Regions from separate parts of the Homo sapiens genome. Here region 1 is linked to region 2. Evidence: fine-mapped expression QTL. A gene starts in region 2. The other region holds a variant in brackets. All regions are shown on one strand. Distances are between the middles of the regions. Region 1 overlaps SELENOT (selenoprotein T). Region 2 holds the start of SELENOT (selenoprotein T).

The links. PIP is the estimated chance that this variant, and not a neighbour inherited with it, causes the effect.
Region 1: its variant is fine-mapped to the expression of SELENOT in whole blood (TOPMed, PIP above 0.99).

The regions. Positions count from the first base shown.
Region 1 is chr3:150,621,413-150,636,989 of GRCh38, reverse strand. It overlaps SELENOT (selenoprotein T), which reads right to left. Exons shown (of 6, transcript NM_016275.5): 2 at 14,495-14,605; 3 at 13,821-13,947; 4 at 12,091-12,178; 5 at 9,827-9,980; 6 at 6,554-9,331. The coding sequence ends at 9,856. Among named protein-coding and RNA genes, the nearest start is that of SELENOT, 26 kb to the right of the region's middle. RefSeq lists a silencer at 1,574-1,868. The variant C/T (reference allele first, on the strand shown) is at 6,944.
Region 2 is chr3:150,594,177-150,609,753 of GRCh38, reverse strand. It overlaps SELENOT (selenoprotein T), which reads right to left and starts at 6,433. Exons shown (of 6, transcript NM_016275.5): 1 at 6,255-6,433. The coding sequence starts at 6,391. It overlaps LOC124900547 (a long non-coding RNA gene), which reads left to right and starts at 6,571. Exons shown (of 2, transcript XR_007096128.1): 1 at 6,571-6,810. RefSeq lists enhancers at 5,975-6,274, 5,549-6,322, 6,295-6,444, 6,565-6,644, 9,653-9,862 and 2 more.

The sequences.
Region 1 (15,577 bases), 27 kb before region 2:
TACTCACAGTGTATTGTCCCTAGAGATCAAAGTCAGGATTGACTGGTCCACAAAACACAAGGATACTTCTCAGAAAAACAAGAAAGAATAATCACATTAAACCACTAGGCTCTTTAATTGCAATGAATCTTATATTCTCAGGGCAGGAAAAAGGCTCCTTAGCCAATGAGCAGAAAATAGACGACAAAAAAATGTAAATGTTACCCAAAGTTTAAAAGCTAAATTGGGAAGATGAGACTAGATTTAAGAAGGATAATTCTAATGGAGTATAGGTTTCAGCATGACAAAAGAAAACTCAGAGGATAGAAGGGGAATGTAACCACAAAAGTTGACATTAATTTTTAAATTGAATATATTACTTATAAATTATTAATCCAAGGCCAAAGATGTCTGGAGTGCGATGCTGAAAGTGCCCACAATGCTTTTGTTAGAACCTCTACCTCTTCATCCTCCTCTCCGCCCACCATAGCCTCAGTGCAGACAGATTCACCCCTAAAAGCCAGATCTGATCTGATGGCTCATCAACTCAGAAACTCTCCTTGGCTATCATCTATAGAAAGTAGTCCAATTCCTCACCTCAGCTGTCAATGCCCGCAGGCTGTTTCCCAGCACATCTCCCTCCACCCGCACCAATATATACTACGGTCCAGCCCCCTTCCCTATAGGAATTATCACAGAAACCCTGTGCTTCTGCTTTCTCATCCCTGAAGTGCTGCTCCTCCTGTGCACTGTCCCCATTTATGGAAAATTATATACTCAAGCATCTAGAACCAATGCTCCCTTCTGCTCCTATAGGCCTCATGAGGCTTCTTATCGTTTTGCTGTAAGATTTTTATGATTCTCTCCTCTGCTATACCATATGCACTTTGAATGCAGGAATTGTGCCACACATCTTCACAACTGTTACCCCCCACGGTACCTAGCACATAGCAATCCCTCCAGAAATGCTCTCAAGAAGCTAAATGGAAACAATATTCTGGAGAAGTTGGAAAATTAAATAGGATTGACTTTCAAACTGTAAATTTGCTTGGTCCTCAGTAAAGATTCCAAAGCTGTTTCCCACCCCTCAGTCAGCCTAAGTGAAGGTGAAAGCTCGGAGGATTAACACAAGTTATTTTCACTGTTGGAAGACATTTCTGAAATCTACTGATCTGGAATGTTAATCACCTCTTACCATCCAACTCATTAACACAAATGCTTTGAAAGAAAATAAATAAACTACACTAAAACCAGTCTTTTTTTTTTTTTTTTTGGTCACATTTCAAAGCTGCCTCTCACCACAGTTCACATTCTCACACAAGTTCAAAGAAAACAGGAAGTGCCCTAGAAACACTGAGAACCCTCTTTCTTTGTGTCCTCTGGGGTAGTCCACTAGCCACTTAAAGCCCCAAAAGTAGTTCTTTGGCTTTTTTCTCTAATCAAAAGAAGAAAAGAGCTAATAAGAGATATTTCCCTTTGTTGGTTTGTTATCCTTGACAATCTTTCCCACTAAAACGTTTGTTACCTTGAATTTAGCCTTTTATTTCATTATTGGAATGAAAAGCTTCCTCTGTTTGTTTTAAGCATAAATATGGAAAAACTACTCACAGAGGCAAGGAAGACTGCTTGAAATGACACTAAGCCTCCTTAACAGCTTTCAGCCTTTCAGAGTGGCTAGGAAACAAGCACTGCCCTCTCCCCGTCTGGGGACCGATTAGGATAAGACTCTTCCACCCCAGGCCCCAGCTAGCGGTGGTGGTTAAGAACAGGACCATTACAGGACCCAAAGAGGCCACTCTGCATGAGCCTGGAGAGTAAAACCCCGGTTGAGAACAACTGCCTTAACCATATTCATTCAGTCAGTCAACGTATGGAACCACAATTTTAGCCTTCCTCAAGACTGTTTTCAGCATGTTTCTCATTACTTTGTACGGTATTTAACTGCTTTTCTGGTACCGTAACTTTGTGTATTATTTTAAAACTCATTATCTTCATTTTCCATATAATCTTCCCACATGCATTTTCTGGATACAAAGCTCCGGAAACACATCTTCTTCTGTTACTGCAATAATCCTTTTTTTTTTTTTTTTGAGACGGAGTCTTGCCCTGTCGCCCAGGCTGGAGTGCAATGGCACGATCTCGGCTCACTGCAAGCTCTGCCTCCTGGGTTCATGCCATTCTCCTGCCTCAGCCTCCTGAGTAGCTGGGACTACAGGCGCCTGCCACCACGTCCGGCTAATTTTTTGTATTTTTGGTAGAGACGGGGTTTCACCGTGTTAGCCAGGATGGTCTCGATCTCCTGACCTCATGATCCGCCTGCCTCGGCCTCCCAAAGTGCTGGGATTACAGGCGTGAGCCACTGTGCCTGGCTTATGTTACTGCAATAATCCTTAAGCAGAAGGCTGTACTACACATTATCTAGAAAACTTATACAAATTTGAAGAAGATGACTCTATAATGATCACCTTATTTCTTAAGATGCTGTCCACACATACACACACACATTCCTCCACGCATTCCTCCAAACCCATGGGGAATAAGATGCCGGGGTTACACGCAGCCTCAGGAGAAACAAATTTCCCGAGCATCCATTTTGCTTAAAGATTTAGGGAGTTAAGAACAATAAAACAACATTTTTATATTAAACCCAGCAATGAACAATTTGAAATAAAATGATTTTTGGCATGAATTTTAAAATGAGACATCAACAAAATTGTGTTTTGCAATGGGCCACATTAGGCCATGGTCCCAGGCAGGCCAGTGCTTCAGCAAAGTTGAGATCTAGTTGAACACAGCATTTCACCAAATTAAAATGGCAAGAGCGTTGAGAGAACATGTGATCCAAACTGCACCTGAGAAGCAGGTGTGCTGTTTTTTTTTTTTTTTTTTTTGAGATGGAGTCTTGCTCTGTCGCCCAGGCTGGAGTGCAGTGGCACGATCTTGGCTCACTGCAACCTCTGCCTCCTGGTTCAAGCGATTCTCCTGCCTCAGCCTCAGCTGGGACTACAAGGCATGCGCTCCCACGCCTGGCTAATTTTTGTATTTTTAGTAGAGATGGGGTTTCACCTTGTTGGCCAGGCTGGTCTCGAACTCCTGACCTCAGGTGATCCACCCACCTCAGCCTCCCAAAGTGCTGGGATTACAGACGTGAGCCACTGAGCCCGGCCAGGTGTGCTGTTTTTAAACTTACCTTACACGTGAGGTAGCCATCTTGCCTGGGACACATAGCTAGTAATCTCTGTGTGTTTTCAATTCTCATCATGTAATCAGTGAATAGGATGAGTCGTCTGAAGAACTGCAATTTATAAACCTGCTTTCGGGGAAGGATCTTTCCAAGTGGGGAAATAGATCCAGTCAATCTGAAACCTGAATTTCATTATATTAGGATAAGAAATTATTATGTAAACTTGCCTTCCTCTGATGTATCTTGCACACACATACACCTGCCTTTTTTAGTTTATTTGAAAAATTTCAGCCCATCTTAGCTAAAGCGTAAATGTGAAGTGAAATTGAGATTAAATTTGTAAAATTGCCTTGTTACTGTCTTCTCTCTTCCCACCTAATTTCTGACAAAGTCCTCTGCTGTTATTCTGCTTTCCCCAAGCCCCGCCAAGGGTGTAGGGTTTGTTTGGTTTTGTTTCGTTGCCATAAGCTATATAACCAGGGCAAGACATTTAACCTCTCTTGGCCTTTTTTTTAATTTGAAAATTCAAGTACTGAAGTAGATCTCAACACCAAATTTCTATACATCTGTATAAAACACAATTTTACTGGAAGAATCACATTTATGAGTCACCTGTTGCTTATATACACTATGTATTTTAATATATTAAAAAATAATTTTATTCCTAGATTTTATGAGCTGTTAAAAGACAAAATTCAGCAGCATTTTCTAATACTATTTTTTAAAACGTTTAGGGAAAAATGTCAATGGCACACTTTCTTTCAAACAGATCTGCTCTTAGCAACTCCAGAGTAACAAAGGAGCTGTAATGGTTTTTTTCCTCTTGTAAGAGTTGTTAGTACACAAAACAGATGAGTATGGCCAGTGGCCCAAGGGAGTGTTGGTAGCAACCTCCCGAGGCCTTAATATTTTTGTTTCTTAACCAAGCAATCAAGTGCTGGCTCCATCCATTCTAGACAACTCTCAAACAGGTTAAATAGCTACCTGATCTGAGCAGTACTTGATCTGAGCAGCCTATAACCACAAAGCAATAGGCTTGTCTTAAACAATTATAACCCTGAATGAGGAGGAGGTTGGGTGGAAGGGGTCAATAAAGGAAAAAGGGATTAACAGATGACAAAATGATCAGGGAGTAGATATCAAGTGAGAAAGTTCCAAGATAGGAAATGTGACACACAAGTTGGACCAGAGTACTTTTCTGGGACTTTAATCCATGCTCTCCTTCTTCCTTTCCCCTCCTCATCATCCCCCCTTCTCACCCCCTACCCCAACTCTCTTCCCTAATTATAATTTCTCTCAAGGAGAAAATGAGGCCGATTTAGAGGAGAGTTCTGATTCTCTCATTTGAATCCCTGAAGCCAATTCTACATTGGACTTTCTCAGTTACATGAACTAATTAATCCTTCTGGGGGGGTTGGTGGGGATAAAATAGTAGATTGGGTTTCCCTGGCAATTTAAACAGTTCTATTATGGTTAATTACTCTAATAAAGCTAAATATGTAAATTTTTCTCTACTCAGAATTACAAGAATTTACATAGATTTTTGCTTAATGTGAAAATCAAAATCAGTTGTCACTGTAAATTAAGGATAATGTAGGTATGCTATTGCCTGGTTTGCTCTGAGAAAATCTGGCAATTCAAACCAGTTATTTTATATTATACTCAAAGATTTAATACTTCCTTCTAAAAGAAATTCATGCAAAAGGTTGTAAAGTGATAACAAGAAAGGATGTGTTGCATTGATAAGACTGGGACAATTAAGTCAGTGTTTTCTTAGAAACATAATCTCCCTCTCATATCATTCTTTTTATCTCCTGAGCTCCCATTTTGCTGAATTTGTGTTAAGTCATTCTACACGTGACGCATCTAGGATGCATCTAGGATGAATCTTCTGCATTCTGCTCTGTGGTATGGTGCTACTCAGTGTAGACCAGCGGTCCCCAACCTTTTCTGGCACCAGGGACTGCTTTTGTGGAAGACAAATTTTCCATAAACGGACAGGGGGTTGGGGGGATGGTTTTGGGATGAAACTCAGATCATCAGGTATTAGGTTCCACCTCAGATCATCAGGTATTAGGATTCTCATAAGGAGCGCACAACCTAGATCCCTCGCAGGCACTGTTCACAATAGGATTCTGGCTCCTATGAGAATCTAATGCACTGGTCTGACAGGAGGCAAAGCTCAGGAGGTAATGCTTGCTTGCCTGACACTCACCTGCTGGTGTGCGGCTGGTTTTCTAAGAGGCCACAGACCACCACCAGTCCATGGCCCAAGGACTGGGGACTCCTGGTATACACCACAGACTAACAGTATTAGAATTATTTTGAAGCTTGTTTGAAATGCAAATTACCTGGTACCATTTCAGATCAACTAAATCAGAACCATTAGGAGTGGGATCCAGAAATTTGTCCCAGTGATTTTTAAGCACATTAAAATTTTAAAACCACTACTGTTTGTCTGCATGCTTTTTTATTTTGCTCATGCTTAACATTGGCAAAAGAAAACATTCTGTTAGTCTTATAGAATGGATGACTTTACAGCTTTCTACTGTATCTGAAACCAGTTTATATTTTTCTTCAAGATACAGTTTGGAGCTGGGTTTTTTTTTTTTTTTTTTTTTTTTGAGGCAGGGTCTTGCCCTGTCACCTGCAGTGGTGCAATCTTGACTCACTGCAGCCTCAACCTCCTGGGCTCAAGCGATCCTGCTGTCTCAGCATCCCAAGTAGCTGGGCCTACAGGTGCATGCTACCATGCCTGGCTAATTTTTTTTTTGTAGAGATGGAGTTTCACCTTGTTGCCTAGGCTGGTCTTGAATTCCTCGGCTCAAGCAATCCACCCATCTTGGTCTCCCAGCCATGAGCCACTGCACCTGGGCTGTGGATCTATTTGTTTCTATTTGCTTTTCTGAAGCCTAGGGGAAAAGGAGCCAGCTGAATTAAAAAAAAAAAATCTGATATTTGCTCTTTCTTCTGAGATTGTTAAATTGTCTATACCAGTCAATAGAGGAAAAACATTCATTTTGTTTCTCTCCAGATTTAAGGATGTTAGTGTGAATGTTTCAGGAATTCTGCAGGTTGGGGGTAAAGACAGACAGTGATGTAAACTGTTCCACTTTGCTCCACTCCAGCACAGAATACATCACAGAGCTATTGACAGTTCAGCAGCACTGAAGCACAAGTAGACCGTAAGGCTTGAGAAGTAGCATAAGGTCCAAGAGTATGGTAAGACTTGAGTGCCAGACTGATAGTGAGTCATAAACACTGGTCGGGTTAAGAAGCCATTAAAAAGTAATGATAATAACTTTTATAATGCAAAATTTTGTGAGTATAGTTACCATATAAAGTGCTCTAATGTAGATTTAATTCCACAAAGTAGGAGTTCCTTTCAAATCAGCTTAATCAAAGTTTATTTTCACAATGCTACAGAGGTAAGTCCCCAAACTTTACAATCCTCATTTGTTTCTCTCAAAAAGATCTCTTTTTTTAAAAAAAAGGCTTTAGAATACCACACCATGTTTAAAATCCTGTAAGCTATTTTTGAAATCTAAATTAAATTCTGACAATGATAAAATGTTTGCCAGCCAATCAAAGTCCCAAACTAATTAACATTCAAAGTAAAAAAGAATCATCATTGGGATCTCATTATATTTTGATAGCTGTAAAGGCTGATTGACTCCTGTCATTAATAGTGTTAGTGTCATAAGCAAATAATATCACTTATATTCTAGAAAAGGAAATAAGCATATTTGTCTTGCACATCTTATACACTGAGGTATAAAA[C/T]CATGTTTTACCAACTTTTTTTATTAATGTACCAAATAATTTCTTCCACAATGGCAACTGTGGTAAAAACCCCCATAGCATTAGCCAACCTGCTGGCATGTTCTATGGTCTTCTAATTAATATAGTGCACAGACATTTATAAACTACACAGCCACAGTAATTTACAAGTAACTAATAAATATTGAAATGCTGGGAATATAACAAAACTACATTCTAAATAGTTTACTTTCCCTTTTTCCTTATATTATTACTTTTATATTCATTCTTCCCACTCATTTTTTTCACTAGACTCTATTAAATTCAAGATTTAAATATGGCTAAGCGTAAGACAAAAGAGATGAGCGTCAACAACACAGCTGAATTTTATCAGTGTCTAAGCCACTTAAAGCTATTCTCCAAAAGATAAGTTATTCAACCCAAGGCAAACAGAGAAAGTTGGAATTGAATCCTAGGTTCTTTATATTTTTAACTGTCAGGTCCACAGGAACATCCAAGGCTCAAGTTTTGAATGTCTACATGTCATGAAGTTAACTATGGCACTAGTGGAATGTCGATTACTGAAGATGAACCCCTAGACACATTCAGCAAGACATTCAACTTGCAGAAGGCAGGGAATTTGGAGTGGTACACAATCAGATAACAAGGTTTCAAGCTCTAGTCAAAGACAAGATGATATTATACCTAAATAACAATTTCTAAGGAACTTGAATAACAATCTCTAAGGACTCTTGTCACTATATGAAGAACTTAAGTTTATGACTCCACACTCTTAATTAAAAGGACAGCCACTTAATCAATTTTCTGCAGTGAATTATTAGACTAACTTCCTAGCATCTGGAGATTACAGTATGTTCCACCTTGAAGCTATCACAATCAAGACCATTACCTGACATGCATTCAACAAATATTCGATGACAAACAAAGTATAAGGTTAATTGTTACAGAAAGTTAGGTCTTCTAACACCTAAGTGTTAAGTGGACTCAATGTTGAACCTTTTTGAGTGCCAACATGACACTCAAAGGAAATGCTCATGGAACATTTCAGATTTCAGATTTGGGATGCCCAACTGGTAAGTATAATGCAAATATTCCAAACTTTGAAAAAAATTATGAAATCTGAAATACTTCTTGTCCCAAGCATTTTTGGAAAAGGGATACTCAACCTGTACCTTATAACTTTTCCTAAATCACTTTTGGCTCTACCACTTCTATTCCTATATGGAAGCTGAAGTATGTTATTACTGCTGTTACATGACTACTCTTCTACATTCTGGTTCTATTTCTGCTAAATTATTCTTACAGTTTTTATCAACTTAAGTTTTTTAAAAAACTGCCTTTTTAGAACTCTGAAACAGTATTTAAAAATTAAATTTAAAAAATTTTAAGTTTTGTTCATCATATACAATAAAATTCTGATATATGATGTTAGACAAATTATTAGTCAGGTAATTTCTGTTCACCTAGTATCAATGCTATAAAGAGGTTCAAGTGAACTTTCTTTAGTGAGATGAGTTTCAATGATCCTAAAGATGGTAAATGAACGATTATTTGTGTATCTAAAGTGTGTACTCTTAAGAAATTATCCATAAATCAAAAACAAAAATTTAAGCAATTGTTAAATATAATGTTAACAGGTACACTGAGCAATAAATTGAAACTTTTAAATTTAACTCATATCTGCTTAGTTTTTTATTTAGTTAAGTATAAAGGCCCAGTTAATTAATCAATTCATTAGATTGGTCAAGGCATGACACTTTAACTACACAATAGGATTTAAAAAGCAGTTGGTTTTTTTAGTAGTTCTCTGGTAATCACACGCACATACACACATACACAAAAATTTATAGAGTACTCTGAATATAGGATTTCCCCCATAATCTTGCATCTGCTATATTTTGTAAACTGTATAAACTGGACATGGCCAAATTAGAGATGTCTGATAAACTCTTATAAAGTATTTGGGAACTTCAACTGGATTCCCAAAGGATCAATTTTAAACTATAAAAAACAAATATTCATATAAAAGCACAACAGATTTAACAGACATCTTTGGAAAAAAAATCAAATTGTAACTCAATTTTCTACTTTTTCAAATATGACTAAGAAAAAAAGTTACAAGTAGTAATGTTTACCTTAAAAAAAAAACACACACACACATTAACTGGGTGATTTTGTGGGAGGTGGGGAAAGCTATACAGTATTATTGCACTCCATGAATGTGCAGAATTCCAAAATATGCCAGCACTGAAACACTATCTTGCATTGAGGTTTTCCAAGAGGTACAACGAGCCTGCCAAGAAAGCATCTGGTCTGTACTAACAGCTTGCTGTCTTCAGTACAGGCCTTCATAATGTCAGTCACGCTGCTCTTGCAATGATCCCTTAATGCCTGAAAGATATACAGAAAAAAGAATATTTTATTGCAAAAATCACTCATAAAAACTCTTTAGAAAGTGAATTCATTGATCACAAAGAAAAAGTTAACTAATACCTCTCTGTGTTCACACATTTGCCTATAAATTTTTTATCTTGAGTATGTTCAAAGAATTTGCATACTCCCAGGAACTAATTACTTGAAGGTAAGGACAGGAAGTATACACACCTCTAGCATAATATATCAACTCTGGCCATTAGGAATTTAGAGTAAAGAAAATAAGGTTACAGACCCAATCATTAAGCCTTGAAGATAAAATTACTAACAACCTGACTTTATTTTGGCAGGGCCGAACTCTCTTCATACACTTCAACATTTTAATGAAGAATACATCCCTCTGTTTAATCTTAAATTGGAAACTCAAGTGATAATATATGTAATATTTACTAACTTGCTGAGTCATAAGAATCAACAGAAACCTATACATTAGCTATATTTTAAACAACTTACAAAAGAGTTTTCAGTGCTGATAGGTGGTGCTATGATCGATGGTGTGGGATTGAATCCATATGCACATTGAGCTTCATTTCATTGTCAAGAATTTGAACAAGTTGTTGCATGGATGGAAGGTGACCAGATTCCAGCTTAGACCACACAGGTACATCTATAAAAATAAATGGCACCGCCCCCCAAAAAATTAAAGATGATTTTATAATATGCATTCATCCCACTAATATTTATCATCTATGTACACAACTGGGATACAAAAGTAGGCAAAAAAGTACACTGCTTGCTCTCAGGGACTTTACATTCCAGTAGGGGAAATGTCAAAAGAACTACACAAATGGCTACAAAATTACAATTGTGTACTTAGAACTAAAACTAAAAGGCACTACTGTACTAGGAGGGACATATACACAAGGCTCTCCCTGTCTAGTCAGAGAAATAGTATCATTTAAATTGAGATCTAAAAGATAAAGAAAAATTACCAAGACAGAGTGGGGATTCATGAGAGTAGAAAACCTTTGAGGGAGAGAACAGAAATGTAAAGACCAGAAAGTAGCTTGGCACTGAAAATAAGAGAAAATCAGCATAGCTGAGGGAAATATAGAAGAGGAGTGATATAAGGGAGGATGGGAAGGTGGAAAGGATTAGACTGGGGTCAATAAACTGTAAAGGGACAGAAAGTAAACATTTTGGGCTAGGGAAGATACATAGTCTCTGCCACAGCTATTCAACTCTTGTAGCCTAAATGCAGCTGTAACAATACACAAGCAAATGGACATGGTTGTGTTCTAATAAAGCTTTACTTACAAAACAAGCAGCAGAGGATATGGTCCATAGGACCACAGCTTGCTAACCACTGAAATAGATCATGCAGAGCCTTTTGGCCAGATTAAATGTTCTGGTCTTTATCTTGAGAACAAAGTCAAGTCATTTAATGAATTGGGAACACTCAAGCAGCAAGATAAAATTTGCATTAAAAAAGTTATTGTTTAGGCTGGGCGAGGTGGCTCACGCCTGTAATTCCAGCACTTTGGGAGGCGGAGGTGGAGGCGGGCGGATCACAGGGTCAGGAGATCAAGACCATCCTGGCTAACAGGGTGAAACTCTGTCTCTACTAAAAATACAAAAAATTAGCCAGGCGTGGTGGCAGGCGCCTGTAGTCCCAGCTACGCAGGAGGCTGAGGCAGGAGAATGGCGTGAACCTGGGAGGCAGAGCTTGCAGTGAATCGAGATCGCGCCACGGCACTCCAGCCTGGGCGACACAGCGAGACTCCGTCTCAAAAAAAAAAAAAAAAAGTTATTGTTTAGAACAGATATTGGTCAATTTTTCTGTAAGAAGGCAGATGGTAAATATTTTACACTTTATGGACCAAGAGATAAAAATCAAGAACATTATGTAGGTACTTATATAATATAAAGATAAATTTCTACAAATTTTTCACTGATGCAAAGCAAAACTTTAGTTATAAGCACAGAAGTTGGAATTTCATATAGTTTCCATGTGTCATAAAACATTAGTTTTTTTTTTAACCAAAAAGTGTAAAAAACATTATTAGCTCATAGGCCGTATTTGCCAACCCTTGGTTTAGAGAATGCAGAAGAGGGTAACAAGTTAATTGTGTCCTGGACTAGGGTGGTGGCAGTTAAGATGAACAGAAGGTAGATTTTTGAAATTTAGGAGGTGGAACTGAGAAGACTTGGTAATCCATAAAATAGGGGGACTAGGGAAGACGGTGATATTATCATAGGTTTCTGGCATGGGCAACTGAGTAGACAAATGATGGTATCACTAAATAAATGAGAAATGTCAAAGGAGGAGCAAAAGAGTTTACAGACATTATAGGAAGGAGAAGTAAGCAAGAGTTTATTTTAGAGTAGGTTATGTTTAAGATTCTTCAGCATAGCATTTTAGGAGAGAGATCGAGAGATATACATTCAGGGATCATCATACAGATGTTATTTTAAAGCCATGGGAGTAGATAAAGTTCACAGAGACAATCTGATAAAAGAATAGGGCCAACTCCTCAAGGAATTCGAAGGTGTGAAGTTCAAGCAGAGATAAAGAGATTAAGTTGAGGGAGCAAATTAAAAAAAAAAAAGTTAAAATTTTCTAAATTCTTCTATCTCCTGAATTTTCAATTTCTTTCAAATAAACTTACTTTTATACAAACACTAAAGAAGTTTATCTTATTATAAAAGATAAAAGCTTGATACTCATTATAAATCATTTAAAATCAATCACAAAATGCAAACTATTCAGAACCTACCATTTAAAGTTATCTCAAATGCACCTGTTGACATACACTGGTTCTCAATCATGTTGCTCAAGAAGAAAACCATCATACATGCATAAACCTAAAAGAAAATATAATTAAGCACAACAGGCAAAGTCATGTTTGGTAAATGCTCTTTTTAATCTACTTTAAAAGTTCCCATAAAAACTATTACTGCTATTCCATATGTTCAGATAACATACATAGAGCAAAAGTAAACCAATATTAATTTGCAGCTCCATACATGCTGAAGCACTTATAGATGATATTCATAATGTACACAGAATTTGAGAGATTTCATAATAGCCTTAATAAGTTAAACAAAAGAATACAAGCATAAGAGTTCACTTTACCATTTTTATAATATATGAATTCATAAGAGACTTGTGATGCAAAATTAGTAACTCCATATAATATTCAATACAACCTGTATATGTTTCAAACAAATCATTTTAAGTCAAACTAAGAAAGAAGTAGGTTAGAAAGCATAGGCATATTAAAGTACATTCATTCACCTTTCAAAGGCAAATCTATACTCTCTCCCAAAAGCGGCTAAGTGTTTCTTGTTGGACAGAAAATTTTACTTTAACAAAATCACAGGACTAAAAGTAGGATGCAGTGAGAATGCCAATTCACAGCAAGCTGTTTCAGAAAAATAAATCAAATGTTCACAGCAGATGAGAAAGAGCTTTCCCTACTGCCCCACAGGAGCTAGGTGGGGTTTGTTTTTATAGGAATTACTCTACCATTTGGGAATGTTAAGTCTATTTTCATGGGAACAATATACAAGGAAATGTCATAAAACCTACAGGGTAGAGATATATTTCAATTAGAGATACCACTTGAAGATATTTATATTAAGAAGTCCTGCCTGTTACTGGAAAGAAATGGTTCCCAAAGAAAAAGAAGCACAGCTATGCAGGAGTCTGCTAAAGGTATTCAGCCTAGAATTAAAGGACAAGATCAGATAGAAGACTCCAAAAAGGAAGACTTCATAAAAGGAAGCCTAGAAAAATCTAATCCATGAGAAAAATAAAAATTAGACCCATTTTAGACAGGACAGTAAGCCCTCCAGAAACAATGATTAAAATCATTTTTAATATTAAAATATTTTACTTAAAAGTAAAATAAATTAAAATCAGAGTAATCTAGAAAGAATGTATGTGGCAATAAGACCCTACAAAAGGAAAAGAGAAACAGCACAAAGTTCTTAAGTATATTTACATTGTTTCTTTCAGGCAATTAGTCAAACAGATCCATAAACAGAAGAGGCAAAGGACAAATAATTTAAAAAGAGAGAGGAGTTTTGATAAGAACAAGTTAATGGGAATCCCCTTTTTAATGTGAATCAACCCACTAATATGACATTAATTGGTTTAAAAGGCCTGCATTATGTATATATTATGTTTTGCTGGATATGATTTGACCTAAGTAATATAATCAAAATCAGATAACAAATTATTTTGTGCCCAGGTTATACTAAATTAACACCTCCCTATCCCCCCAAAATAAAAAGATTAAGACCTAATCATTCTTAATATATCAATATGGAAATGAAGGTGAAGGGAGGCTAAGTGACTTCCCCAGAGATAAAACTGGTATAAATTAAAATAATACATGTTAACAGGTGAATCAATAACAAGTATTCAAAATAAGAAAATCTATTAGAATATTTCACTGACAACATAAAAACCTACAGTTACCAAAGCTATTAAGTTACATACCTTATTTTCTTGGCCCCACTGCCAGATGCTAGGAGCTTGCATGCCAAAGAAAGCAAAAGGATCCTTGCCAACAATTATTAAGCCTATTAATACTAGTTTGAAGACTGACAGGAAAGATGCTATGTGTCTATCAAAAGAAAAGAAAGAAAATCATCAGAAGCCACAATTTCCAATCTACTTTAAAATTTAGTAATTCAAGTGTATGTAAAGATTTTCTAGACACCAAATCTAAAAGTTACTTATAGAAAAAGCAATTAAAGTTTATTGTGCAGTGTTAAAACAAAAATGTTTAATATATTTAAAATCACCTGAAAAATTAACCTACAAATTTATACAGAATTGGTCTTTAAAAATACTATTATTTTATGAAATACAGAATTTAATACCACTTTCTATAAAAATTTAGGATTGTTATTCTATTTCCACAATTAAAAATACATATGAAAACACATCTTTAGAAGGGTTGCCATCTCTGAAACGACCCTCTTCCTTCTTACAGAAAAAGCCTTCTATATTGGGTCAAATAAACTTGTTATATATAAAACAGCATTCTCTGTATATTATTATAACCAACTAAGTAATTACAATAACTAAGGACAGCTAATTAAACCAATTCACAAACACTTATAAAGTCAAATACATTGTTTTCCTTTTAAGTTATTAAAATTTCTTACCTATATATTGGTTGAGGGAGGTAATTCTCTCCTTCAATGCGGATGTCTGGGTACCGCTGGCTAATAACCCGCATGTACTCCTCAAACACCCGCCTATAACCTCAGGAAACACTGCAGAAAAATAAGTGTTTCCATTAAGTCATTTAGCATACATCTAGATTTATTTTGTAGTTAGTTAAAGCCTAAAAATTATCAAGATTACAAATTTTTCTCAAAATCAGTCACAAATTCATAATAATTGAACCAGGATGACAAATACATTGAGTTTTTTAAATACATTTCACATATTTCAGTTACCACCCCCTCAAATCCTTCCATTAAGACATTAAACTTTATATATGCCAGTAATGCGGCCTGATTTTTTTGTTTAAAAAAAAAAAAGAACATTAAACTTTATAGATTTGGGTTACTGTTGGACAACAGCAAATACCTATTCACATTCAGCATACTTTGAGCTCTCACACAGATTTGGCCTTTTTGGGGGAGTATCAATTACTTGTATAAACAGTGAAATGAAAACAATTCTTATTCATCTGAACTACAGACTTTCAAATTTGGGACACAAGACTTCAAAAACAAAAAACAAACAAACAAAAAAAATCAAGGCATGAGAGAATGAAACTCTGGTTCTTATTCCCATTCTGCCCTTAACCAGGCAAACTTGTTTGCCCAAGCACAAGAAAAGGAACTTAGACTTAGAACCCTTCTAACTCTAAAATTTGATTCTACTTTGCCAAGGAAAACGAAGATTGGGAACATAATTTTCAATAATATGGACAGAAAATCCTTATAATTACTCTGGAGATTAAAGTCTCTAAAGTCTCTAAGCAACTCACTTTCAGATAGATGCTGCCCCAGCAAAAAAAAAAAAAAAAAAAAAAGGAAATATGCCACCAGAGTGCATATGAGATAAAAAAGAAGATGGTACATTTATATCAACAGAAGAACTTACAAATTCAGGTAATATTGTTAAACACTAAAGTTCACTAAATTCTAAGTTAAGGAACAGATAATATCATAAGGTACCACTTGGTACAGAGGAAGCAGGGTCAGTAATTAAGTTACAGTAAAATCTGAGGTGCC
Region 2 (15,577 bases):
GAACCAAATAGCTGGTCAACTTCAGTGAAGTAAGATACTATCCATGCTCCCATTCCCAACTTTCTATATCCTGACAGAGGATGTGTTAAAAAGAAAGAAAACACCAAGGCTGGGCAAGGGGGCTCCTGCCTGTAATCTCGACACTTTGGAAGGCTGAGGCAGGACTGCTTGAGCCCAGGAGTTCAAGACCAGCTTTGCCAACATGGTGAAACCTCCTCTCTACAAAAAAATACAAAAATTGGCCAGGCATGTAGTGCGCGCCTGTAATCTCAGCTACTTGGGAGGCTGAGGTGGGAGAATGACTTGAGCCTCGGCAGTCGAGGCTACAATGAGCAATGACTGCACCACTGCACTCCAGCCTGGGTGACAGAGTGAGACCCAGTCTCAAAAAAAGAAAAAGAAAACATCAACAGAATAAGTAGCAAGGGTGTGTCAGTTTCAGGGCAGCAGGAAAAGGACTAGCAGTAGCACAGAGAATTCTGGAAGTTTATAGTCCCACCTGTAGAGGCACGGAGGCCAGGCCGAAAAGTTACTGATGGCGCAGTGTATTCAAAACTTAAGTTTTACCCTCAACAACTTAAACAAAGGAACATACCTCAAAATAGTAAGAGCCATCTCTGACAAACCCATAACCAATATCATACTGAATGGGCAAAAGTTGAAAGCATTCCCCCTAAGAACTGGAACAAAACAAGGATGTCTACTCTCACCACTCCTATTCAACATAATACTAGAAGTCCTAGGCAGAACAATCAGGCGAGAGAAAGAAACTGTACTAATCAAAATTTAGGGGTTATCTTGGTATTTCTAAATAATATATTCAACTCAATTGTCCAGCACTTGCCTTAATGGCAAACTGTTAGGAAATTATGTTTCAATTTTTTGTAAAAGGTTATAAAACCTTTAAGATCATTCAGTCATGTTTACCTATATCTAAAAGCTTTGAACTAAGTACTTAATTCATTATTAAGTGGAAACAACTATTATGTGCAAGGAGTTCAATTACATGCTGCAGCTATTTTTTTAATGGTAACACTCTACTACTACTAACCTGCTATCTACACCAACTTCTTACTACTCCTTTATTTCATTGATACCAATAAGCATACTTTTCCATATTTAGCATCTCTACTTTTCCTTTTTTTAAAATTAGAGACAAAGTCTCGCTATGTTGCCCAGGCTGGTCTTGAACTCCTGGCCGCAAGCAATCCTCCCACCTCAGCCTCCTGAGTAGCTGGAATTTACAGGTGTAAGCCACTAAACGTGGCTACATGTAGCATCTCTATAAATTAAAAAAACAATAACAAACAAAAAAAGCCACAGGATTTATCTTATAATCATTAGTGTGTCCGTTTAAATGGCAGTATTTTTTTCTTCTAAATGGCATATAAAATCATGGTACATCTTACAATCCATTATGTATTTTAGGTTTGATGTAATAAAGTAACTGTTAATTTAAGTTTCTTAGTTTCAGTTATCATGGCTATTTTGGAGATAAAAATTTCTTTGTGGGGGTTTTCCCCTGGCTACTATGTCCTTAGTCTTCAAAAATCAGGATTCCTTCCCTCCCACCAAAAACATTCATAATACTTGTTTATTTTAATTATCATTCCAGTGAATGGTATAGCATCACCACAGAACTCAGGAATCATCTTTGACATCTCTCACTTCATGCCACCTCTCTTTCCCCACAAACATACAATTCATCATTAAGAGCTGTTAAATTTACCACATAAAGATCTCTCAAATACATCTCTTTCTATTTCTACCACCTCCTTACTTTTCCAAGTTCCATTATCTCTTGCCTGGACAACTCCAAAAGCCGCCCTAAATGGTTTCCCATCAATTCTTTGTCTCCTGGAATGTCTTTTCCACAAGAAAACCAAACGGTCTTTGTTAAGCATGGCCTGCCAGACCCTCAAGCTCTTAACGGCACCTTCTTTTAGGTCTCTGAGGTCAGTAGGCTTAGGCTTCTCTGGTAAAACTGTGGTCTTTCCTACTATAAGTACACTGAACATGTTATTCCCATTGCCTGGAAAGTTCTCGCCAAATAAATCTTATCCTTCGAATCTCAGTTCAAAGTTCATTTCCTCATGGAAACCTTCCCTGATCCCGACTAGGCATCTCTCATACCACCACATAATCTTTCTTCACAGCACTTAACACCAATTGAATTTTATCTGTGTGGTCAGTCCATGGATTAATGTCTGCATCTGCTCTTGCCTGTGAAGTCCACGAGAGCACTGAATTGAATTCTCCGCAGGAAGCAAAGTGCCTGCACAGAGTAAGTGCTCCAATATCTGTTGAATATGCAAATATCAAGTCTACAGTAACCAACATGATCTCTGTAACTCACAATTTCTCCAATTCAGCATTTTACTACTAATCTTGATGAGTATCAACATCCAAATCAACCTTAGGTCTTTATTTTCTTGCTGTCACACTATGAAAGCCAAGGCTGAATAGTTGTAAATTTAAATAAAAATCTGTTTTGGTACAGTTGTTTCATTTACCTCTTAAAACTACATTTAGAAGTTGGCTGTCCTAAAATTACAGCAGTAGATTCTCAAACTAACAAAACTTTGAAAATCCCGCCATATTCTACTTATGTTTTGAAATCTCAATTTCATTTAATCTACTATTCTCAGCAATTCAGTTGTCAAATGTTCAAGTAAATATTAACTGTAAAGGGTTGTAGCCAATAATCTCTTTAAACTGCAACTAATTAAATGCTGTAGATCTGATTACATGTTAAATCGCATATACGGAGAAAGTATGTATGACAAACATCATGCCTAAGAGTAACTATCAATACAAATTTATAAAAATCAATAAAAGGAAAACACAAAAAGGGAATTTCAGCCGGGGGCAGTGGCTCAAACCTGTAATCCTAGCACTTTGGGACGCCAAGGTGGGTAGGTCACTTTGAGGTCAGGAGTTCAAAATCAGCCTGGCCAACATGGTGAAACCCCGTCTCTACTAAAAATACAAAAATTAGCCAGGCGTGGTGGTGCACACCTGCAGTCCCAGCTACTCAGGAGGCTGAGGCATGAGAATCTCTTGAGCCCAGGAGGCAGAGGTTGCAGTGAGCTGAGATCACACCACTGCACTCTAGCTTGGGCAACAAAGCAACACTGTCTCAAAAACAATGGAATTTTAAGCTCTGATTAGAGAACTTCCTTTTTCTATGTTAAGTGTTAAACGTCCAAATAAGCAGAATAAATTTTTTTCCAAGTATGAAGCCAATATAATCAAAAGTATCTAATTATATTGCTCAATCAACATAATAAACCACAGACTCAGATACACAAGTAATACTGTGCCAGTCTGGTAGACTTCTTGAGATGGTCACATCTTTAGCATGCTTAATTCCTGGCATACAGCAGGTATTACACACAGCCTGGGCAACAAGGCAAGACCAGGTCTCTACAAAAAATATGAAAATTAGCCAGGCGTGGTGGTGCGCGTCTGCAGTCCCAGCTACTTGGGAGGCTGTGGTGGGAGGATTATCGGAACTCAGGAAGTCAAGGCTCCGTGATCATGCCATTGCACTCCAAACTGGGTGACACAGCGGGACTCTGTCTCAGCAAAAAAAAAAAAAAAGGAAGAAAGAAAGGAAAAAAAAAAACGAGAATAGGAAACTCTGTCGTAAGCTACTCTACAAGCTTGATCTCTCAGCACTATGTTGCTATTGTGTTGACTAACAATTGCAAAAGTGGTACAATTACCAGGTGATATATTGAGGTATAGTTATTTTTGATAAAATACTCATGATCACTATAAGGGGAAAAAGTCAGTGGAAATGAAGGTAAAATAGTTCTCTTTTGATTGTTAGCAGTGGTAATTAATGAAAAGCTGCATTTTATAATACTGACTTCAAATGGAATTTTAAAATTCTCATGTTTATCCTCAAACGTATTAGCTTCCTGTCCTTTCTCAAACAAACTTGCAAATTAATGTCCACAAGATTCTAGCAAAACCAGAAACCCAATATTCACTTTACCATAAACAGATTAATCTCTGGGGGGAAAAGCAACAAACAACAAGCTAAGTTGATCTGTATTTGGTGGGTCTTATTAATAACGTTATTTCCCATCTACAGATTAAACAAAAAATGATCTCCGGTGGATAGTGTCAGAAAAATAAAAATAAAAATAATTTTTTAAATGGAAGCATTTTTGTTATATAACATGCTCAGAGTGACTGTAAAAGAAAATTATTAGACTTTTGGGACAGGTCTGTACTTAAAAACAAAGAAAAACAAAGTATCAAAAGTTTAACTGAAGTACTTACTACTTTTTTTTTAAGTTTAATTTGAAGGACTGAATGCCCTTCCCTACGTTTGTTTACACATTTTGAAAACCTTGCTATGAATAGCCTTGGTGGAAGATACACCTGGTAAATTATTGTGACAAGTGTTCCAAAAAAAGCAAACGTAAAAGGGGTATTTTGGAAAAGCAAAAATACAACCAAGAGATAAAAGTAGGATACAGAAAAATTAAATAATTTGAAAACTGCAATTTTTTAACACTTAAATCCGTAAGTATCACAACCCTTAACAATCTTTAGGTTAGTAAGATGATTACCACCTTCTAATTTAAAAATTAAGGAAAAAAGTTAATGGATAAACCATTCTCCCATTTGCAGTATTACATGAAAGATGATATATTCCAGAAACATAGTACATTGTACAGGGAGGTTTTTTTTTTTTTTTTTGAGACGGAGTTTCGCTCTTGTTGCCCAGGCTGGAGTGCAATGGCGCGTTCTCGGCTCACCGCAACCTCCGCTTCCCGGGTTCAAGCGATTCTCCTGCCTCAGCCTCCCAAGTAGTTGGGATTACAGGCATGCGCCACCACGCCAGGCTAATTTTTGTATTTTTAGTAGAGATGGGGGTTTCTCCATGTTGGTCAGGCTGGTCTCGAACTCCCGACCTCAGGTGATCCGCTAGCCTCGGCCTCCAAAGTGCTGGGATTACAGGCGTGAGCCAGCGAGCCCGGCCTTGTTTGTTTTTAATCAGGAGAAATTGCAATGTTTTAGTTTTCACTCAAAAAAATAAAGTCTCACCATCTTATTTTCTAACTCAAACATCACCTTAAGCCGATTTTTAAAAATTATTTTAAAGGTTTGCTTGGTCTTCAGTGAGTAAGTAAAAAGCTAGTTGGAGAAGTAGAAAATCAAAACTTTAATATACTAATACATGAAGTTCTTAAAAGAAGGTTTTAAATGAATGATGTCCAACACCAACATTCCAATGTATCCGGACTCTGATGATTTACTAATCTGGCTATTCTGGGATGGTCGGTTTATCCTGAGAAAATGTCATCTTTGGAGGTGTAAGATTCTCATTTCTATAATTTTACAATTTTGGTGTTTTTTCCCCCATCTTCAGAGCCTTTCAATCCCCACCCGCAACCCCACTTACCGTATAAAATGCATCATTGCCCTGCTTCTAACGATTAGGTTAAAAACAAAATCATTTAAAGAACACTGTCGAAAACTGCCGAGATCTGCTGGATACACAAGACAACTGAAAGGTAGAAAGAGATGCCAGAGCAGGCAACTCCTGGGAGGCAGGTGAGGAGGGAATGCGAGCGAACTGTCAATGTTTAGAAGAACAACGTGCTCCTTTTCTGACACTTTGGAAATGGCAAACAGAACCAGCATCCCCAGACCTTCCTTCCACCCCCTCCAGCTGTCAGACGCCCCATTCGCAAACTCAACAGTCCCCCCAGCAAGTTCAGGAGAAAAACGGCGTCTGTCACTCCCGGATCCTCTCCAATGACCCGAATTAACCTTCATCTAGCCAGGCAGCGAAGCCGCCCGGCATTACCCCGGAAAAGAGGGCAGAAAAAGTGAACTGACAAACGGTTGGCGCTCCTCCGCCGACGCGGCGCCTACTCATCCCCATCTCCGCAGGCAGCCGGGGTGGCTATGGCGTGACGCCGCCAACCAGTCCTCCGTACTAACAGGTGTCCCCCAGTCTTCGCCTTTCAGCGTTTAACCTTCTCGCGCCCTCCTTCCCCATTCCCACTGTTCTAGGAGGCAAAAAACAAGTGAGCAGTTATACCTGGAAAAGGAGGGCGGCCTGACCGCGCTAAGGGGCCGCGAGAAGGCTGGCTGTGGAAGGGCGCCGGCACAGTTCTACGAGGCCAGCGAAGATGCGGCCATTTAGGCCGCGAAGCCGGGGCCTCGCGTAGCCAATGGCGCCGAGCAGAGGCGCGGCGGGGTGGCCGGGGCCCAGTGCACATACTCACCAAATCTGGAACTTGAGCAGCGGCCCCGTGGCGTACTGCATCTTTAATCTCTTGCTGGGCACGCCGCCCAGATTGGCCGAGGCCTCGCTCCGGACCATCGCAGACGCCGCCACTAGGAGAAGCAGCAGAAGCCTCATCTTAAATGAGCCAGCCACTTCGGCCGCCCTCAGACAGACTGCAGCCAGCCCAAAGCCCAGGAGCGAGCTGCTCCCCACTGCGCAGGCGCGATCAGCCAAGGTCGGGGGAGGGGAGCAGTAATGCGCCTGCGCGGCCCGGCGCCCGCGCACACTCCTGGAGTGAAGAGCCGACCTGTTTCACTGTCCTGACTCACCACCATCTTGGTAGTGTGCAAGACTCTGGGACGGCATGAGAAAGGCAGAAAGGGAGCAAAGGAGCTGGTGGGGTGTCACAGGGCCTATGTATGAGGCAGATGTGAGTTCTGCATCCAGTTTTGCAATTTATCCATTTACCTGCCTGAGACTTGGAAACACCTACTTTATAGTCCTGATTCAAGTGTTGGCGGATGGAAGGGAGGAGACTCCTGACCCTCAGAATGGTAATGCTGAAATTTTTTGGGTGCGCTGTTATGGCCTTTTCTTTGATCTTACAATATTGCTTTCTCCTGAAAGAATATTAAACATAAGTTTTAGGAAACCTTTGGACAATTCCAAACATATCCAAAAATAGAATAACTACCTTAGCAAGCTTTAACAGTTACTATACATTTTGACAATCTTGATTTGTCTATATCTCTAAACACTTCTTCCCTTCCTAGGCATATTTGGAAGCAAATCTCAGACATCATATCATTTCATCTGTATATATATATTTTTAAACACGGTCTCACTGTCACCCAGGCTGGAGTTCAGTGGCGTGATCATAGCTTACTGCAGCCTCACACCCCTGGGCTCAAGCAGTCCTGCCTCAGCTTCCCAAGTGGTTAGGAATACAGGCACAGGCAACTATGCCTGGCTTACAATTATTTAAGCACATATTTCTAAAAAAGAATTATTATTAAAAAGAAAAAAAATTGACCACAGTGTTTCACATGTCCGTGTGAAGAGACTACCAAACAGGCTTTGTGTGAGCAACACAGCTGTTTATTTCACCTGGGTGCAAGCGGGCCGAGTCCGAAAAGGGAGTCAGCAAAGGGTGGTGGGATTATCATTGGTTCTTATAGGTTTTGGGATAGGCGGTGGAGTTAAGAGCAATATTTTGGGGGCAGGGGTTGGATCTCACAAAGTACATTCTCAAGGGTGGGGAGAATTACAAAGAACCTTCTTAAGGGTGGGGGAGATTACTGATCAACAAAGTACATTGATCAGTTAGGGTGGGGCAGAAACAAATCACAATGGTGGAATGTTATCAGTTAAGGCTATTTTCACTTCTGTGGATCTTCAGTTGCTTCAGGCCATCTGGATGTATATGTGCAGGTCACTGGGGATATGATGGCTTAGCTTAGGCTCAGAGGCCTGACATTCCTGTCTTCTTATATTAATAAGAAAAATAAAACAAAATAGTGGTAAAGTGTTGGGGCAGCGAAAATTTTTGGGGGTGGTATGGAGAGATAATAGGCGATGTTTCTCAGGGCTGCTTCGAGCGAGATTAGGGGCGGCGTGGGAACCCACAGTGGGAGAGATTCAACTGAAGAAAGATTTGGGGGTAAGGGGTGATATTGTGGGGTTGTTAGAAGGAGCATTTGTCGTATAGAATTATTGGAGATGGCCTGGATGCAGTTTTGTATGAATTGAGAAACTAAATGAAAGACACAAGGTCCGAATAAAAGAAGGAGAAAAATAGGTATTAAAGGACTAAGAATTGGGAGTACCCAGGACATCCAATTAGAGAGTGTCCAAGGGGGTTCAACGTTGTTGTCTGCTTGGTTGGAGAGTTTTTGGGCTCTATCTCTATCCTTAAGTTTTTTTATGTTGTCATATACCAGGCCAGATTGATTTAGGTAAAAACAACACTCTTCATTTAAAAATATACAAAGTCCTCCTTTTTCAGCAGTGAGTAAGTCGAGGCTTCAGTGATTTTCAAGGAAAGAGAGGAGGTGGGAAGGCCAAACTGAGGAATTATGTCTGACAGAAGGGAAGAAATGACCGCGGTGGCCTTCTTAGACCCTGTGGGAAAGGCCTCTACCCACCCAGTGAAATGTCTACCCAAACCAAGAGGTATTTTAGTTTCCTGACTTGAAGCATGTGAGTAAAGTCAATTTGCCAGTCCTCGGCGGGGCAAATCCCCGAGCTTGATGTGTAGGGAAGGGAGGGGGCCTGAACAATCCCTGCAGGGTAGTAGAATAGCAGATGGAACATTGAGAAGTGATTTCCTTGAGGATAGATTTCCACGATGGAAAGGAAATGAGAGGTTCTAAGAGACGGGTTAGCAGCTTGTAACCTACATGGAAGTGGTTATGAAATGACGACAGAATAGAATGGGCCTGTGAGGCTGGAAGGAGATATTTTCCTTGGTCCAAGAACCATTTGCCTTGTGTGGGAAGAGATTGATAGGCGGAAGTTTCAGTGGGGGAGTAGGTGGGAGTGACCAGATGAGAAGGAGAAAAACTGCCATGAAGGATAGAAGTTAGAATGCTAGCTGCTTTTTAGCTACCTTATCAGCATAAGCGTTGCCTTGAGCAGTGAGATCTGATGCCTTGTGATGGCTGTTGCAGTGAGACTCCACTTCCTTTGGAAGTACGGCCTTGCTCAGAGGCCTGACACACAGTATCATTGTCTCACCTTTAAAAAATAGTAATTGCGTAATATTAGTCAGTGTTCAAATATCCTGTGGTCTCAATAACTACTTATTTTCCTACTGTTCATTTGTTAAAATCAGAATCAAAATGAAATTTATACATTGTCATTGGTTGATGTGTCTTTTAGGACAAGTCAAAGACTTTTAAGACCAGGAACACACCAGTAATTGAAAAATTTTGTTTATCATTAATTGCAGCAAGAGGGATGCTATGGTTTGAATATGTCCCCCAAAAAGCATATGTTGGAAACTTAATGCCCAATGTAACAGTGTTGGGAGATGGGGCCTAATGGGAGGGCTCCACCCTCATGAATGGATTAATGCCAATTATGAAAGGGCTTAAGGCTTCGATTTCTATCTGTTGCTCTTTCACTCTTGCACTCTCCTGCACATTTACCTTCCTCCATTGGATAACAACACAAAGCCCCCATAAGATGTGGAGCCCTTGATCTTGGAATTTTCAGCTTCCAGAACTATAAGAAATAAATCTCTGTCTTTATTAATTACCCAATCTCAGTTATTCTGTTATAGCAGCCCAAGATGGACTAAGACGGGGGAACGCACACCATGGGAAACCATGAGAAGACTCAATTAGGAGGTGTTAGGATCTGGGGCTTGATTGGATGATTTGGAAAATGGAGCTGGGGTGCTGAGCGGTTCTATTATCAGAGATGTTCAAACCAGAGTGACTTCATCTTGAGTAGGGACTGAGTAAAATGAGTTGGAGACCTGCTGGGCTGCATTCCCAGGAGGTTAGGCATTCTTAGTCACAGGATGAGATAGGAGGTCAGCACAAGATTCAAGTCACAAAGACCCAGCTGATAAAACAGGATACGGTAAAGAAGCCAAAACCAAGATAGAGACAAAAGTGACTTCTTGCTAATTATAATATATTCACATGCTATCTCCTTTACTGCTTATTGTATGCTAATTTAACACACTAGCATGCTAAAGGACACCCCCACCAGTGCAGTGAAAGTTTACAAATGCCATGGCAACACCTGGAAACTACCCTATATGGTTGAAAAGAAAGAGGAACTCTTTATTCTGGGGAATTCTTGCCCTTTTCCCCAGAAAACTCATGAATAATTCACCCCTTGTTTGGCATATAATCAAGAAATAACCATAAAAATAGCCAACCAGCAGCCCTCAGGGCTGCTCTGTATATGCAGTAGCCATTCTTTTATTCCTTTACTTTCTTAATAAACTTGCTTTCACTTTACTCCATGGACTTGCCCCCAGTCCTTTCTTGAGTGAGATCCAAAAATTGACTCTTGGGGTCTGGATCAGAACCCCTTTCCAGTAAAATTAGATTTTTTTTTTTGAGACATAGTCTCACTCTGCCTAGGAGACCAGCCTGGGCAACATGATGAAACCCTGCCTCTACAAAAAATTTTAAAATTAGCTAGGCATGGTGGCACACACCTATCGCCCCAGTTACTCAGGAGACTGCGGTGGGAGGATCACCTGAGCCAGGAAGGTCGAGTCTGCAGTGAGCCCTGATGGTGCCACTGCACTCCAGCCTGAGTGACAGAGTGAGACCTCGTCTCAAAAAAAATAAGATAATGGGTGATACAGCTAGCCATAAAATGTCTTTAAACAATGGGGTTGGTGCGACTGAAGTTCCATACTCCTGTTTCCCTGGACCTGATAAATTTTACATACATTGCCAGGCACAGTGGCTCAGGCCTGTAATCCCAGTACTTGGGAGGCCGAGGCGCACGCATCACAAGGTCAGGAAATCGAGACCATCCAGGCTAACATGCTGAAACCCCATCTCTACTAAAAATACAAAAAATTAGCTGGGTGTGGTGGCGGGCGCCTATAGTCCCAGGAGGCTGAGGCAGGAGAATGGTGTGAACCCGGGAGGCGGAGCTTGCAGTGAGCCGAGATTGTGCCACTGCACTCCAGCCTGGGTGACAGAGTGAGACTCTGTCTCTAAAAAAAAAAGAAAAAAAAAAAATTTGCATACCTGATATAGCTCAGGCTACTCAGCTATTTTCCTTTCCTCAGGTCTAATTGTTAAAGCAGCAGCAGTCCCTCTTCGTGGCCAAGGAAAGGAATGTTTGGTGTTTTGTGGGTAGCTCAGTGACCTTTTTTTGGTCTGTGCTTAAACAAAATTAAATATCTTTTTTTCTTTTGCAATTTATTTTATTTATGTATCTCCCAACCTGCCCTGCCTCTTTGTCTCTTTTTCCCTTGTGACTTACTTGCCGAAGAAACCATGTGTTTATGGGTTTTGCTGCTGATTACAAACCCATACACTGCCCTTTTTTTTTTTTTTTTTTTTTTTGAGACAGGGTCTTGCCCTGTTGCCCAGGCTAGAGTGCAGTGGCACCATCTTGGCTCACTGCAACCTCTACCACCTGGGCTCAAGCGATTCTCCCACCTTAGCCACCCAAGTAGCTGGGACCACCATGGCCTGCCTTTTTTTTTTTAAATAGAGATGGAGTCTCACTATGTTGCTCAGGCTGTTCTCAAATTTTTGGTCTCAAGTGATCCTCCCACCTTGGCCTCCCAAAGTTCTAGGAATACAGGCATGAGCCACTGTGCCCTGCCAGGGTGTACTTTAATATATATCTGTGTCCTGTGTGTTCTCTGTAAATTAGTAGTTACAGCTAGAGGACTGGACACTTTTAAGTTTAAATTCTTCCAGCAAGACTATAAAAAAGGTGTTTTATCTTCATAATTTATTTTAAAAATTAGATATGGGTAAAAGAACAGACATAGAAAGATTATTGCCATTTAACATAACCCTTGCAAATAACAGATGGTAAATTGGTACCAACATAATTATAAACAAAAAGCAAAACTCTGGCACTAAGATGGCATGGTAGTATTGATACTGGTGAGCTAGGGAAGATCTCCAAACGCTGGTGGGACCCTGACCCTGGCTGGTGTCCAGGCCCTTGATACCATCTCGGGAAGGAATTCAACAAGTCAGAAAATAGTGAAAGTGGCTGGGAGCGGTGGCTCAGGCCTGTAAACCCAGCACTTTGGGAGGCCGAGTGTATCCATTTCAATATCAAAAGTAAGAAATAAAATACCCCATACAAAAATTGATTAGCAAGCTCAATTATCTTGTGGTGGCTTCCTTATAATAAAAATAAAATAATAATAATAATAAAAAAGTGGATACATGTTTTTCTCAGCATCTATTCCTTCTTCTGGTAATGGTACCTCAGTTTCTCTTCAGGGGACCAGAAAGACCCCATTGCACACAGTCTTGGGACTACTACTTGAGGTACTCAAAACATTCCCACCAGAGGTGTGCCTGTGTCCAAAGCCAAAGGTATTCAAAACATTCCCACCAGAGGTGTGCCTGTGTCCAAAGCCAAAAGGTATTGAAGCTGATTAATTCTAATAGAAGAACCCTAAGGAAAGTTCTAGACCCCAAACTACTCTGGGTATTGTCTTCTCCAGGGCCTCATTCTTCATCTTTTCCTTTGACTCTATGAGTTACCACACATTTTGTTTGCAAACCAAGAACCCTAACTTAGAGCCCTGTATTATCTTTATCTTTCCTTCTTTGAGTCTTGCTTAGTTTTTTTTTTTTGTTTTGTTTTTTTGTTTTTTTGTTTTTTTTGGAGACAGAGTATCACTCTGTTGCCCAGGCTGGAGTACAGTGGCATGATCTCAGCTCACTGCAACTTCTGCCTCCTGGGATCAAGCAATTCTCCTGCCTCAGCCTCCCGAGTACCTGGGACCACAGGCATGTGCCACCATGACCAGCTAATTTTTGTATTTTTAGTAGAGACTGGGTTTCACCATGTTGCCCAGGGTGGTCTTGAACTCCTGATCTCAAGTGATCCACCCACCTCAGCCTCCCAAAGTGCTGAAATTATAGGCATGAGCCACTGTGCCCAGCCTTGCTTAGGTTTTCTAACTGTTGCCATTCCCACCTCCAACTCCTAAAGAGAATTATAGACAAGGCAATACTTGCAAGTTCAGATAGTAGACTGTCCATGTCTGGGAGGCCATTACACAGAGGCAAGAACCATAGCCAGCAAGTTGTTTAGGCCAGCAAGCTTAAAAAGCAAGGGCCAGACCTCTGTATGAGGAAAGGGCTAGAGTAAGAGGCCTATGATAAAATTCTGAAACAAGGACTTTTGAAGTCTAGTTATCTAAAAAACACAGGGCTCAAATGTAAGAACAAACAGAATCATAACTATCATCAGGTTGCTTTGCACAAGCATAAAAACTAATGATGTATGATATTATTTTCGACTTACTAAAAATCAAAATAAAAAAGACTAATGATGTATATACCTGGTTTTATTTTTGGAGTTTTAAGTTTTGGTTACTGTGCTGGAGGGATAGTAGGATATGCTTAAGTCACCAGCCCCTCCATAAAAGTCTCAGATCCTAAAACTCAAAGGGGCTTCCCTGGGCAGAGACATATCCCAAATTCACTGCCAGAGAGAGAAAGTGAGAGCGAGGGAACTCCTATGTAGTACCCAATGGGAAATGCTTAGGAAGCCTGTGCCTGGCCTCTCTGAACTCCCTTGATGCATATCTTTTTCCCACTGCTTTTGCTCTGTAACCTTTGCTGTAATAAGCCTTACCACGAATATTACTTGCTATTCCATCTTGTGAGTCTTTCTACCTAATCACTGAACTTGGGTCATGGGACCGCCGAAACAGAAGGCATGGGAGGAGTTCAGGGAGTACAGGATAGAGGAGGACCTGGTGAGCCTAGGGCCTTGGAAGAAGCTGATCAGGAAAACAAAATATATTGATTACAACAAAATCAAGTTGTAATAATTGTGGGACAGGAAAAAAAAACTATACTCAGTTTTTGTGATTTTGTAGGAAAATGGGCACTCCATTATACTAACTTGGGAAAATAAGTAAGTCCAGTTTTTTGGAACTACAATCTGTCAACATAAACCCAAAGCCTTAAAATGTACATGAACCTTGACCCAGCAATTCCACTTCTAAATCTAACCTAGAGAAATAATAATGTATAGCTCAAGATTTTAATTACAAAAATATTCATCACAATGTTATTTTATAAATTTATAAATCAGAAACAATTTCAGTGTCCAACACTGCATTAAATAAATCATGGTATATTAATTTAGTGGCATTTTAACAACCATTAAAAATGACTTATAAATTTTTATATGTGTATAAGTTACATGCAGAATACCAGCCTGGCCAATATGGTGAAACCCTGTCTCTACTGAAAATACAAAAAATTAGCTGGGCGTGGTGGCAGGCACCTGTAGTCCCAGCTACTCGGGAGGCTGAGGCAGGAGAATCCCTTGAACCTGGGAGGCAGAGGTTGCAGTGAGCTGAGATTGCACCACTGCACTCCAGCCTGGATGATAGAGTGAGACTCTGTTTCAGAAAAAAAGAATAATATACAAGGAACCAAAAAGTGGTTGATTCCTGAGAGGAGAACAGGGAACAGAGTGACTAGGGAACAAAGATGGGAGAGAAGTTATTCTTATTGCATAAGTAACTTTTGTATTTTAAAGTTGTGTGCTGTTGTCTTGTAATACTTATTCAAAAAGTAAATATATGTTTTAGAATTCAATGAAAAATAAAGTGCTCAACATAGAATGTTAAAATTGGATTACGAAACAGTAAAGTGTTATCACATTATTATTTATGTATTTTTTAAAGTACATAAATAGGAAGATATGGATCAAAATGTTTTGCTTGGCTATATTTCCTGTTAAACATATGTTATTTTGGTAATAAGAAAAAAAGATAGCTGAGCATGGCGGCACGCACCTGTGGTCCCAGCTACTCGGGAGGCTGAGGTGGGAGGATTGCTTGAGCCCAGGTGGTTGAGGCCACAGTGAGCCATGACTGTACCACTGCACTCAAGCCTGGGTGACAGAGCAAGACCCCATCTTTAAAAAAAGTACCAAATAGGCCAGGAGCGGTAGCTCATGCCTGTAATCCCAGCGCTTTGGGATACCGAGGAGGGGAGGATCACTTGAGTCTAGGAGTTCAAGACCAGCTTGGGCAACATGATGAAACCCTGTCTCTACAAAAAATACAAAAAGTATTCAGTCATGGTGGTGCACACCTGTAATCCTAGCTACTGAGGAGGTTGAGGCAGGAGGATCATTTGAGTCAGGGAGTTCGAAGCTGCAGTGAGCCATGATCACACCACTGCACTCCAGCCTGGGTGACAGCGCAAGACCCTGTCTCAAAAACAACAACAACAACAACAACAAAACCCACGAATTTTAAAAAATAATAAATAAAAATTTACAAAGAAAAAATAGAGAAGTAGAAAACGAAAATCTCCTCAGTTCTTAGCAGCTACCAATCCAGAGCCAGCAGTCTTGGTGTGATTGGCCACTACCTCTTCCTCTTCTAGGGAACAGGGGGATGTCCAGAAACAAACTAAAGAACTTCTTATAGGTCAGAGGGAGGTGGAGTTTCAGTAGCTTCTATGCAGGGTTGGCTTTATGGGTATGTGACCTATGCAGTCACACAGGACCCTGTAGTTGGTTTAATGCTCTGTTGTCACAGCTTTGAAATTCTTAATAATTTTGAATAAAGAACTTCACATTTTCATTTTGCATTGGGCGCTGCAAATTATGAAG